2 linked regions of the Homo sapiens genome follow. The protein of the gene in region 2 interacts with the protein of the main gene of each other region in a pairwise test. Each region holds a gene or a part of one and is shown on either strand. Other genes may lie near its edges.

Evidence for each region. Proteins that work in one complex are often made in the same cells at the same time.
Region 1: the proteins of SOX5 (region 2) and FOXP2 come close enough for resonance energy transfer, tested with the Homo sapiens proteins (one study listed by BioGRID).

What each region holds. Positions count from the first base shown.
Region 1 is NC_000007.14:114,655,786-114,662,814, forward strand, and holds part of FOXP2 (forkhead box protein P2), read left to right. Parts: intron 1-2,280; coding exon 2,281-2,482; intron 2,483-3,570; coding exon 3,571-3,647; intron 3,648-3,786; coding exon 3,787-3,888; intron 3,889-6,279; coding exon 6,280-6,401; intron 6,402-7,029. UniProt on the Homo sapiens protein: Transcriptional repressor that may play a role in the specification and differentiation of lung epithelium. May also play a role in developing neural, gastrointestinal and cardiovascular tissues.
Region 2 is NC_000012.12:23,533,671-23,540,699, forward strand, and holds part of SOX5 (transcription factor SOX-5), read right to left. Parts: intron 3,000-7,029; coding exon 2,783-2,999; intron 853-2,782; coding exon 549-852; 3' UTR 1-548.

The DNA of each region.
Region 1 (7,029 bases), on a different chromosome or scaffold from region 2:
TCAGTACATGAACACAAGGTGCAACCGCACTGTCTATTATATGACCCCATTTACTCTCTGAATGGTACTTCATTAAATGGTACCTTTTGGCCATGCTATGGATGGATGAAAATCAAAGTTATCAAGGCTGCGAGTCCTGAATAATGAGTTTCACCCAACCTTGACTATATTCAGATGAGTCGAGGTGGCTAAGTGCTCATCCTAGCTTTTACATGCTTCCCTTTAGTTAATAATAAATTCTATTTTATCAGTTTGTGATTGTACGCCTACAAACATGGTATGCTTATTATTACAGGATAGCAGAATAAGTTACCGTAACATTGTAAACATGAGTGGTTTGCATTGAAAAAGATGTATTTCTCCTGTTTTGATAACTTTTAATGTGTTGGTAAAATGTACAGAGTCCTGTCACATATTCATCAGGATAGATATTTCATTGATTTGCAATTTGGTATTTTCTGGGTTCTGAATGTGCCATTTTGTTCTGGTTTGCAATTCTAAAAGTGAATATGTAACCATCCAGCTGAGTTTTTTTTTTTTATGTATGGGGAAATACTTTTCTTTTCTTTTCATATTTTTAACATACAAGTATGTAATGCTGATATTTTCTAAATATAACATTGTTATGTATATGTTCTGATGTTGATATTTTAGAATATTTGCAAAGTCACATACAGATGCATATGGATGTTTCTGCGTTTCTCAAACTATGCAGAGGTGCTCTTGTACATCCCAGAGAAGCTTACACCAGTGGCTTTGTAAATGTATTAAATGCAGCATTTAGGAGCATTATCTCAGCTTTCATTTATGTACGTAACAAAGAATTCCCTACCCAGTCTGCTGGCTTAGAGTATGAACAGAATAACAGTTTGTGGTTTATTGGGAACAGATGCACTTGGGGATGCCTTCAGGGTGCCAGTCGTTATTATTAGACTGCTAATGTGCTTCTTCTGGCTGCTGCCCAAGAAAGAAGAACAATTAGCTGGCATATGTTAATTTTTGTTTCCCTAACAAATCTCTCTACTGACTAAATGTGTAAAACAAATCCACAAAGAAAGATCAATCAATGCTGTACACATCATTTTCTCCCCATTAAAAAAAGGTTTATCTTAAGAAGTGTATTTGGGATTTAAAAAGACAGGTGTTACTAAATTATAAACAAAAGCTGAATATTCTCTATTTAGCCACTCAGCAGTTACTTTATAGAGAAACAGAACAATTAGAATTAGTTTTCTTGCTTGGTTGTATAGCCTACTGTATAAAGTAAAAAGGACCACAGATTACCTCTTGTGAATACCATTTAAATGTATGGCAGAAATCTTTTTATGTGCTGCCCTGCGTAAAAATTTTGCTAATTGGATGCTATTTATGACAAAAGATGTGTGGTAAATATGACAGAGGTGATATGAGTTTTTTGATAATGAAGAACAGGGCCTTTCTGAGGGGAGTAATGAAGGGCACACTGTTAAACAGCTTGCATACATTCTCACCTTTTTTCTTTTTTCTACCCTGACACCCACTTTCCAGGGTACATCAGCATTAAGTGACACTGTAATCATAAATTGAAAATGATACTTCCAGAGGAATTGGCAAACTTGACATTTCATTATATTTGTTAACACATGCCACAAATGATTGTTAGTGAGGAAATTCCATTTCCCTCTCTCCATCTCCAATCAGATTTAATTTGAAAATTTTCAGCCTCCTCCGGCTAATTTGCAATTAAGACAATTTTGTTTGAATATGTAGTAATGTCATTACCATTCCACCAAATTAGCAAGGAGACTAAAGGTCAGTGTAAAATTTTCCAGCTGGCTGGAGCCTCTCAGCTGAGATTTGGGACTACGAAAAAAAAAATTCTGGCATCAACAGAATAGCAACTTACTTTAAATCCTATTGGTTAAAAACATTGCATCCTTCATTATTGCTGTTGTTGTTGCTTCACTGGGGGCTAGACCTGTTTAACAACAGGGGCAGTCGATAATCAGCAACTGGCTTTTATTTAAGGAAATAGACTTTCGCTGAAGTCTGGTAGGACAAGAAGGAGTTAGTCCTAAGTAACATTGCAGTAGATTATTAGATAACCTCTAACAGAATCCTCTAATTAGAGTTCTTATGATACAATTTCATCCTGTAATTAGTTGAGATTGGCTGCTTCCTTTTGCAGCTTATTAGTGGCAACACAGCTGTAGAAGTGAATCCACTCTCATTTGTCAAACCTTTTTAAGTCTTTTTCTCTTGTCTCTACCTTTTTCCTGCCCTTCTCTTGGGCCTTTGCAGCTAAATCTGGTGTCTAGTGTCACCATGTCGAAGAATATGTTGGAGACATCCCCACAGAGCTTACCTCAAACCCCTACCACACCAACGGCCCCAGTCACCCCGATTACCCAGGGACCCTCAGTAATCACCCCAGCCAGTGTGCCCAATGTGGGAGCCATACGAAGGCGACATTCAGACAAATACAACATTCCCATGTCATCAGGTAGGATATGAATGCTCAGTAGAGCACTTTTACTTTGGGAGAGGAAAACTGTAGCTGAATCAACTGTACATGAGCCATTCCAGAGCACATGGAAACTCATGTCATGATTTATGGAGTGATAATTGTTTTATTCCTGGTAAATGCGAATAGGGGCGATTCCCTAAGCACATCATGATGAATTGTTCTGAATGGTTGTTCAGGAAAGAAAGCTCTCCCCATTAGAGACACTGAGAGATGTCAGGATAGCCCATATTATCACCTCAATTCAATGAGATCCTTTGATCTCTGAGGGAAGACTAGCAATCCAACATCTGTGAGTAATGCTGTAGAGAAGAGCCATTTTAAAGGACATATACGAAACACCGTTGCTTTATGCAAGACAGTTCGAGGTTTACATGAATCAGTCTTTATCAAGGTGCTACCTAAATGAAATCCTGTCACAGCTCCTAATGCCGATATGGCACTTTGCTTAAGAAGCATTGTGAGAGGCAAACTTTGCATTTGCATGGAACACAAATTTACCTTCTTTCCCTCTCTTACCCTTCTCCCTTCTCCCTTCTCCCCCACCTGCCATCCCTGGGGCATCTGGATAATCACAGTCACACATTGTAACCATTATTAGCCCAGAGCCCCCTCTTTACAAAAAGTGAAGTTATTTTCAACATGGGTGCTTGGTGAGGGTTTTGTGTTTCCTTTGTTAGATGGCCACAGATGCAGAGGTGAGCCTGTTGTACTTTAAGACGTATTAGATGAGAGAAGCAAAGATTATAGCAGGGGGGCAAAAGTCCATGTAAGAATATGCCTAAACTACCCACTTTAAAGAAGACCTGGCTATTGGAAAAAAATCCTCAGGCCAGCAGGTCGCACAGTTCCTGAAGTACCACGAACAACTAGGGGATGCTTCATTTGCACTTCGCGTCAGAAATGGCCTTTTCCATATAATTCAATTCCACTGTCATGCTTTGTGCTTTCACTAGTCGGTGGCTTCCTCACTGAATCACTTTACCAATACTAGAGGAAATATGAAAATTCAATTATATATAATGTGAATTATTAGCAGAATTAACACCTAGTTTTTATTTTTATAGAAATTGCCCCAAACTATGAATTTTATAAAAATGCAGATGTCAGACCTCCATTTACTTATGCAACTCTCATAAGGCAGGTAAGTAGAAGGAAAATTAACTTTGCCTGATTAAATTAAAATTCATTAATGCTTAAAGTAAGGCTTGGATGAGAAAGTGTCATCTAGTCTAGTTAGTAAACCATTATTTTATGTCACTATGTATCTTGTCTCATTTCAGGCTATCATGGAGTCATCTGACAGGCAGTTAACACTTAATGAAATTTACAGCTGGTTTACACGGACATTTGCTTACTTCAGGCGTAATGCAGCAACTTGGAAGGTAACTACTTTTCCAGCAGTTTTAAGATGCCTACCACAGTTCCTTACAGATAGCACAAGGAACATTTATTTACATGACATAAGCAGATTAGTATCTGCTTCCCCTCTTTTTAACCTGCCTCTTGAATGGAATGAATTCCCTCTCTCAAAATGACAAGTGAAAGAATAATTTTGCCTCTGATATAGTTTTCTAATTTGGTGCAATTAATAGCTGAGGCTTGGCAGAGAAACGAGGGCCTGACACACTAATTACAGTGTGAGCACTCAATCATCAACACCTTTGTTAGTCGCACGATATTACTTTTTCTCTTGCATATTATTGGCTAATTAGTTTGAAAAATGTCTGTTTGGCTTGTGCAACAAATGGAGGCTGTAGGTTTTGTCTTGGTCTGCGCCTTTTGTACACATCATACCTCATCATACAGACTGAAGCTGCCACGGGAGTGAGGGCCATGGCTACTCAGCTGGAACTAAAAGAAAGTAAAGTGAATATTATCCTGTCAGAACATAAATGCAGTTTATTTACTTAGACAAAAGGGTTCATCTATATCCCTGTCCAAACAACTTCATTGTCTGAATCTTACAAGGAGCTAAAAAAAATGTTAGTTCTATGCATCTATTTTTGGAAAAGAGCAACGTCTGGAAAGATAAGGGCACTCAGCACAGACTAAGTGAACTGTTTTATTTTCATTTCAAAAAGCAGTCAGAAACATCAATTAGCCACAAGCCATTTGGTACAAAAGGGGAAAATGTTTGTAGCTGAGAAGAATAGAAGCAGCAAAGCACTCATCAGCATACTGAGAATTTTAGACTGTGAGATATGCTAAAGTGAATTAATTTGGATTTAAAATGCAAATTAATCTGGCAAGCGATTACAGATATATGGGTGTGAGACTCAGAATGCTTTTAATTTACAAAATGTTTAGATGTTATTAGTTGCTACAGTATGTGGTACTGTAAATGAATGTAATTGTTTTATTTATGCACAGTTACTTGGTATATATTTTATATGATGAAAATGTCAGCAATAATCTGTGCAATATATGTTTTGGAGGGTTTTCAGTAAGTAATATTTATGTTGAAGATTTACATTTTCTTTTGTTACTCATTAGATAATGTAGTGAATGTTCTGTCATTTGATTTACTGAAAGAAATTTTAAAAGAAATGAAAGATGATTTAATATCTTAGCTTGGTCTCATCTCCACAGCTCGGGGATCCAGCAAAACTCATTCTGAACAGCTTATTAGTTCTAACTATATCGCATGCATAATAAAACTGCTCATTTGCTCATTAATATTAAAATTATCATATTCAGAGCCATGGGCATTAAGATCAATCAAATCCTTGGATTTCAGGTCAGATGCTAGATCTGCTTATGCTTTTTTTTTTTTTTTAAGAATTCTTCTCTTAAAGCAAGCTAGAAGCAGCTTGTCTTTGTGCAAATAGAAAGAAATCTTCATCAAAATTACTTTGTTTTATATTCGTAATATAAGAATTAGGTCATTTCTGAGTACTTGATAGCTATATGCCAATGTACCTTGACAGGAAGAAATATTTGCTTAGGTTTATAATTTGAATTATGGAAAATACTCGATGTAAATTATGTGGTCTACTGTATATTTATTATAGCTAAAATTTTAGGAATGACTTAATTTGATTTAAAAATGTTAATTTTGAGTAATTACTCTAATACAAAGCTGCCAACAACATCTGTTTGCATAATCATTATGGGAAGAAAATGTACTCTCGGGTTCCAGCAACGACTTTCAGTTGAGTTTAACATTTACAAAAACTTTATTGGGAATTTAAAAAAAATCTAAGTGTGTCTTATTGTGCAGGCAGAACGTTACACTGTAACTTGCATATGTCATCTAATAATACAGAATAAACAAACTCTGTCATTTCATTATTATAGGGATGAAAAGAATGCCTTTGAGCTTATTTGCATAAAGCTTTGTGCAAAATTAACACTTGTCACTGTAGCCTTTTTAGCATTTTAATACCTCAAGCAGGACTGGTTCCTTTGGACATTTCAACCATCCCTGAGTGCTTGATCAGGGACACAACAGAGCTGACCTAATTGTTCTGGCATTTTCAAAGATACTGTAATTTGTACAGATATTGCAATTTAGACCAGTTCAATGAAAGGAAGGTTTTGACACAGCTATTATTAAAATAGCTTGGAAGGTTCTCTTATCACAAAGTTCAAACTGCAGATTCCAGTAATTTGTAAGTTTGAGGTTTGTAATATCATGCCATATTTTGATTTTAATACTTAAACATGTTAAGATTTTTCACTCTGATTAAGTAAGATCAATAATGTAGTATGTTGGGCTGCCTTATTAGACAATATTATTTTTGCCATTTTTTCTTCTCTTCTGTCTGCTTTAGAATGCAGTACGTCATAATCTTAGCCTGCACAAGTGTTTTGTTCGAGTAGAAAATGTTAAAGGAGCAGTATGGACTGTGGATGAAGTAGAATACCAGAAGCGAAGGTCACAAAAGATAACAGGGTATGTTTGTGATAGTTTTGTAATCCTGTATCCTGCATCCACCAGGAAAAGTAAATACTTTAAGTTGGGGCTGGGGTGGGGAGACAGTTAGCTTAATGGCATGCTAACATTCTCGTGGCAATGAACTGCATTTTGAATCTAGGTGTAGGTGGCATAAATCAACAGTAGCCTATCAATTTTTTCCGTAAAAATCATCACAGGACTGTTTTGGTTACTATTTTCATCAATTCAGCATTTCTACGTGTATCAAAAAATTGTTTTTCAAGATGGAACATGCTTTCTAGAGAGAGAGAGACACTTCCTGTTTTTATACAATACAGTAGCTTCCAGTAGAAGCTAAAAGGCTTTTTAAAAATGAGGCTAATTTTGCATATACTGGTAATCCTGAAAGTACCTTTTTATGAAGAATTTATGAGAAGACTTTATAAAAAAATAAGGCTATTTCTTTCTCAAATACTCTCATTTTCCAAGACAAACTTTATCATTTGGACCTACCTTGCTTTTACTCCAACTGTGATGGTTTTCTGTACAGTGCTGTTGAGATGACCAAGGTATACTAGTGTGAGAAAATTACTGGCTGGGAAGTTTGAATTTTGTTTGTTTTATAGAGAACAAGACTGCCAAACTT
Region 2 (7,029 bases):
AGTAAAGAGAAATTCATTTTTCTTTTTTTTCTGTCAGGTGCATTACAAAGAAAAAAAATGAAAGGAAAGAAAAAGAAAAGGAAAAAACCCAGAAACCCCAAAAAACAAAACAAAACTTTTTTCTTTTTAAAAATTGTAGCACAAAACAACAAAACACATTCACAAGCCACTTGTTGGCACTGTGTACCTGAGTGAGAATTTCTAGAACATTGTAGAACAAACAGCCATAAAGTTTATTTAAAAAAAAAAAAAAGTTGACGGGTAAGACTTCAGTGCTTGGATGTAGCAGCTGAATTACTGGCATTATTTTACCCATAGCTTATTTCAATCTCTTGTTGTTGATATTGTTGTTTGCTTGTTGTATTTGTTTTTTCTTTCCAAGCCTTTTGAGGCTGAGGTCTATTAGTCAGCTGATGTCCCAACTATTTAAGACTAACAGTTAAAGTAACAGTCAGTGTATGAGAAAGTTAATGTGCTTGGCCACTGGTAAGGATGAACCAGTTAGGGCTTCTTTAAGTCCTAAGGTCACAACAATCTTTTGACCCTTATCAGTTGGCTTGTCCTGCAATATGGTTTTCACTGTCACTCCCATAATCTACATCTGGATCATCCTCTTCCTCGTCGTACTCATCATAAATTTCTCCATTGATGTCCTCGGCCTGTATCTCTTCTTTGATATGTGGCTCCTCTCCTTTCACACCGTAAGTGCTCTGGATAACAGGCATCCCAGGCTCTGGGCTGCTAGACACGCTTGAGTGCTCCGAGGGCAGGTGAGGGGAGGGCATCCCAGCCATGGCGATGGCTCCAGGGTACACAACACCAGCAGTGGCAATGGGGATCTGTGCTTGTTGCCTGTCAAGAAAGGAATTTCCAAAAAGACATCGTGGGTAAGTGAATAGTTAGATGTGGACTTTACTACATAATTAATTTGCTCAGCAATGTCCAATTCTAAGGTACTAATTTTATCTAATTGCCTAACATTTTTCAAACTCCATCCTACTTGAACTTTAATACCTTGTTTTTCTTTTCTTTTCTTTTTTTTTTTTTTTTTTTGAGATGACGTAGTTTCGCTCCTGTTGCCTAGGCTGCAGTGCAATGGCGTGATCTTGCCTCACTGCAACCTCCCCCTCCAGGGTTCAAGCGATTCTCCTGCCTCAGCCCCCCAAGTAGCTGGGAATACAGGCGCCTGCCACCACACCTGGCTAGCTTTTGTATTTTTAGTACAGACGGGGTTTCACCATGTTGGCCAGGCTGGTCTTGAACTCCTGACCTCAGGTGATCCACCTGCCTCGGCCTCCCAAAGTGTTGGGATTACAGGCGTGAGCCACCGCACCAGGCCTAATACCTTATGTTTAGGTAGTGCTTTATAGAGTACAAGATATTGACATGTGTTGTCCATCTTATTCTTAATCCTGTTTGTTACTACTGTTTTATTAAAAAACTGAGGTGCAGAAAGATGAAGCAGAAGAACCCAGGTCCTTGATTCCAAGTTCATTTTTCTTTCATTATAACATGCAGAAATAGTATTTTTCCCTAGAATTAAATCTAAAGATAATTAAATTTTAATGGGAAAATCCTAAAGCATTAGAGTTCTCAAAATAAAACTTTACTGCCCAGAACACACCAGAACTGAACAAATTCACACTGTCCACTGAGTCTCTGAAACAGTTCTGGCCTCGTAGTGGTAGGAAGCAGGAGCAGCTTCATGGATGTACAAACTGTGCAACTGCACTAAGGTCCCATACTTGGTTTAAAGTTGTGCTGCCACAGACTTGAAATTCTTAATAACTTTTTAACAAGAGACCCTGTCTCCTCATTTTTGCATCTGGTCCTATAAATAATGTAGGTGGTCCTATTGGAAAGGATGAATAGATGATGTGCATTTATGCTTGTTTTTATTCATTCGTATGTTTACTATTTGCCCAAGAACTGTTGGGCATTGTGTTTAGCTTTGTGAGGAGTCATGTGCTTGCATATGAATCACAGACCACTGGACAGAGCATGCAGCCTCTTCCAAGGAACTGGAGGGGACAGAGCAGATTTGGAAAGGTTTTATGAGTCCTTCTCTGCCCATATTTAGAACAATATTTATTATTCTAAGAAGCTCTTAGAAACTAACTTCTGTTTCAAATATGAACAACTTTATTTTGGGTTTTTGAGAGAATTCTATAGAAGCAATGCATTTCTGTAGCCCATCTACAGCACTGTCAACAACCTTGCCACGGGAGCATTGTAAAACATCTCGGAGCTGCGTTCTCAATTCAGAATGAAACCTCCTGTTCCCAACCTTGTTACACCCTAAATATAATCCCTAGCTTGTGTGATCCACAAAGGCCACACATGTACCTTGATAGCTCACTAACCTCTCTATATTTAGAAATAAGTATTTTTGCTTTTGAAATGATTTTTATTTTGTATTGTCTCAACAAAGTTGTTAGTTTTAGAATTTATCATGGTGAAGCTTAGGAAGTAATGCAAACCAATGAAGAAAAGAACCAGTTATACTTCTAAGTTTTTAATAGAAAACTTCAAAATCATTTGCTTGTAGATATCTTGTTTTTAAACCAGTTGTTAACAAATCTCATGGTAGAGCTAGGAACTTGCAGTGGATTCATATGGACATATTTTTCAAGATCATGTGGGAGACTATTTGTCTCTGAAAATACTGTGAGCTCAGATTCTTTTTCAAAATGTCTTTTTGCAACTGAACAAATATGTTTCACATCCCATTAAGTATAACAGGAAGTTTGCCCCATGAGAAAAATGACTAAAAGGTACATACCCAACATTGAAGTACTGCCGCATTTCCTGCCGCCTGTTGCGCATGATTGCCTTGTATTCACCAATGCGCAGCTTTTTGCCATCCACCAGGCAGGTGCGCTTTGGCCTGGGCTTGTACTTATAGTCAGGGTACTTCTCCAGGTGCTGCTTGCTGAGACGGGCTTGCTCCTCATAATATGGCTGTTTCTCTAGGTTTGTCATAGCTTTCCAGCGAGATCCTATGAAGAAAGGAGGTTAGGATTCCAATTTGCACAGCTTCTAAGCATTCCAGAAAGTGATATGGCTGAGAACAAGAAAATCTAAAGTTGAGATGTTAGCCAAAACCCAGAAATACATAAACCTGTTTTTGATTAGTGAGATCCCACAAGAACAGAGGTGGTGGTGGTTTTGTACCTAAAGATATAAACACTGGGCAGTATTTTTTTTTTTCTGGTTTGCATTCTAGCCAAACTTTTGTATTATGTCCCTTAAAGCTCATAGATAATTTAATGGATACATTTCTCATTTCTACATTAGATCATGATATAATTCACATGTGAACAGAAAAGTTACATGATATGTTATCATGCATTTTGAATCTGAGACTAATTATCTAGTTATTGAATATTTTTATGTGGGAGATGTTTTTTACTACAAAAGTTCCCAACATATATCATGTAGTCTCATCCTCCCCAAAATGTTTAAGTATTTTAAGCTTACAGGAATGGTAGTAATTAAAAATTCCTTTGATTAAACATTTAATTATAATTAAAATTATAATATTAATAAACATGGAGTGGGTAACTACTATGTGCCAGACACTGTGCTGAAACCTTGACATACTGATGTCTTTTTCCTACCTTTCACCTCAATCTTATAAAAGAGACAGCATTTCTATCTATTTTCATAGATGAGAAAATTGAGATTCAAATAGATGGACTAACTTAGCCAGGGTCATAATTACTGAAGTACAGATCTGTGACTCAAACTCAGATTTGATATAACTTAAATTGTGCTATAATGTATGCCCTTTCCTACATATGGCCACCTACTATACAAAATATAGCAGAGGTCACAATTACTGTAAATGCGTATTACGATTTTCTCTTAATAAATCAATTTCAATAACATACAAAGACGTCACTTCCCATGATACAGTCTGCTTTAGTAATAATAACCCAAATTGTTTTCCCCCTTTCTTTTCACTATTAATTTTGGTGTGAATTTAGCTGGGATTAAAAAAGACAAGTTTGAAGCTTAAATAAAAATAGTTTATGCTAATTCACATTTTAGATATGGTTTAAAACTTGGATTCTGTCAGTATGGCTATGTGTAATAGAAGTGGTAATGTGTCCGGAATTGGTGGGTTCTTGATCTCACTGACTTCAAGAATGAAGCTGCGGACCCTCGCGGTGAGTGTTACAGTTCTCAAAGGCGGTGTGTCCGGAGTTTGTTCCTTCTGATGTTCGGATTGAGAGGTGACAGCGTGCTGGCAGCCCTCAGTAGTAATAGCGTTTTTTTTTTTTTAATAGTGATTTAAAAATCTATTTGCAGATGAAGTGTGTTTATCTGCAAATAGTCATCTCAACTCAACGCGAATGCACAAAGACCGATAAACTGGAACTAGGATATCCCTACCAAATGGCCTTATACCTGCCTTCAAATGTCATCTAAGTAAGATCTTAGAATCTTTCGAATGAGTTCATTACTCACCCGTAACTCCCTATCTTAAATGCAAATAGCTCACTGTTGAATAGTTCTTCCTTACACATGTAAAGAGTTCCTCAATATGGGCTGTTACATTTATTAAAGCATACAGTGAAAGAGGCAATATCTCTTCCCTTAGAAATGTTACCATTGGAAGAGATATTGTATTGCATAGGTATAAATATAGATTTTTCCAAATCTAGAAAGCCAATGTGAATTTATTCTATTTACAGTATAAACTCAGGTTACAGTGCAAATAATAGAGTTTCTTTTTCTATTCCTTTCGTAAACTTCTGTTTAAATAGCATCATCCAACATTAGGTTGGTTGGTCAAGCCATATCATTTGTAGGGACAATCTCAAACTCCTTGTTGGCCCAGCATTATTCTCTGAAGATACTTGAATACCATTATGTTATTCTCAGGGCCTATATAAACACAGATATGGTTATGATCCTATTGAACTAGAACAACCGTTTTCATTGAGTTTCTTCCAAGCATTTATACCAGTTTTTTGAACTTCAGATCAGGGAGTGGAAAGTGAGCTTACCATAAATAACTCACAAATAGGAATACACTGATAAATGGATCAAGGATGGTTGATCTAATATAAAATTTATTAGCTAGCTTTATCCCAAAATTCGAAAACGAAACCAGCATTTTCTTTTTTTTTTTTTTTTTTTGAGACAGAGTCTTGCTCTTTCGCCCAGGCTGGAATGCAGTGGTGTGATCTCGGCTCACTGCAAGCTCCACCTCCCGGATTCACGCCATTCTCCTGCCTCAGCCTCCCGAGTAGCTGGGACTACAGGCGCCCGCCACCACGCCCGGCTAGCTTTTTTTTTTGTATTTTTAGTGGAGATGGGGTTTCACCGTGTTAGCCAGGATGGTGTCAATCTCCTGATCTCGTGATCTGCCCGGTTCGGCCTCCCAAAGTGCCGGGATTACAGGTGTGAGCCACCACTCCTGGCCAAGCATTTTCAATTAGAAGGGGAATTGCCAAAGATTCTTCCCTAAGTTTAAATGATCTATACGCCAAAAGGCTTTGGCCTCTCAAAGGAAAGAAAATGTTTATGCTTAGAAGTAATCTGCCTTGGAATGCGAGAGCTGTTTGTTTGTATATTTCCTACTATGTACATAATGTTGCATTCATTCCTTAATAAATATATAGTAGTGAGTGAATACAGAAAGTTATAGTTCCTGTCTCTTTGCAGCTTATATTCAGTCAGGGAATATACATTAAATATCTAATTACAAAATTTATTATTTTCCTTATAGTTGTAGAAAGTACAGGAAGGTAAGAGAATATGATGAGGCAAGATCAATCCTCTGCAGGTCAGGAAGGCTTTGCTGTAGAAATGACTCCCGTGGGGCTCACAAAGAGAAGAGCATCCTATTGAGGAAGAATATAATAGTTGAGGTCTTTCGGTGGAAAGAGGAGTTAGACTAACTTAAAGAAAGCTGGTCTGGCTTAAAAAAAAAAAAAAAGAGGAAAAAAAGATGCGTGTATGTAAAGAAATGGGATAATAAAAGATGTGTAAATTCTCAGATAAGTTGGCTTCCAAATCTGGCATGAACGGGAATTATAAAATAGTTTAACTCTTGATAGTATAATTTCTTTGAGAGTATCACTGAATCCTAAATTACACTTTAAAATATGGCCATATAATAATTCCAAGTCTTTTCAAAACTAAGAATAAAGATAGGCTAAGTACTAACCGGGTCAAATGGCTGACTGACTACTATATTTTATGACAGTACAGGGCAGTGTTTCCATTTGGTGGTAAATCCAGTTTTCATTTTCAAAATAGTAACCTTGAATTAGCTTAACCAACTGACAAGTTTGGTTTTGATTTCAATGGCTTTGCAGGTACTATAACCATTGTATGCAGCTGAGGTGTTAACTAACCCCTGAAACATACTTGATGAGAATGGCAGGAAAATATTTTGGATAAACAACAATAAAAAAAAAAAAAGAGAGAAAAAATATCTACTTGATTTGGGGGTGGCTGGCTGCTTACTCTGGACTGATGTACAGGGAGTTTATTCATTCCCTGCTGCTTTCAAAAGGTTGTCGTTTTAGAATAAAAAAGCAGAGAAGGAGGGATAGCATTAGGAGATATACCTAACGCTAAATGACGAGTTAATGGGTACAGCACACCAGCATGGCACATGTATACATATGTAACTAACCTGCACATGGTGGACATGTACCCTAAAACTTAAAGTATAATAATAATAATAATAATAATAATAATAATAATAATAATAAAAAGCAGAGAAGGACAATTGGGTTTTCCTCCTGATGACAAAAGAGGAAGTTTCAATCAAAAGTATTTGATGCTCAAAATAGGGGAAAAAATAAGGTCCAACGATTATTCCTTTCCTTTCTAAATCTGGCAATACACTGAAAGTGAAGAGTTTGCGCTGGGCAACATTGTCATCTCCGTGGGGTCTGTAGTGAATTTGCACATTTTACTCCAACTAAACTACTGTATATCTAATCAGAAAAAGATGTCCCTCTTCCCCTGATCTAGCGCCAAGCAGTAAAAGGTGATTCCTTATGT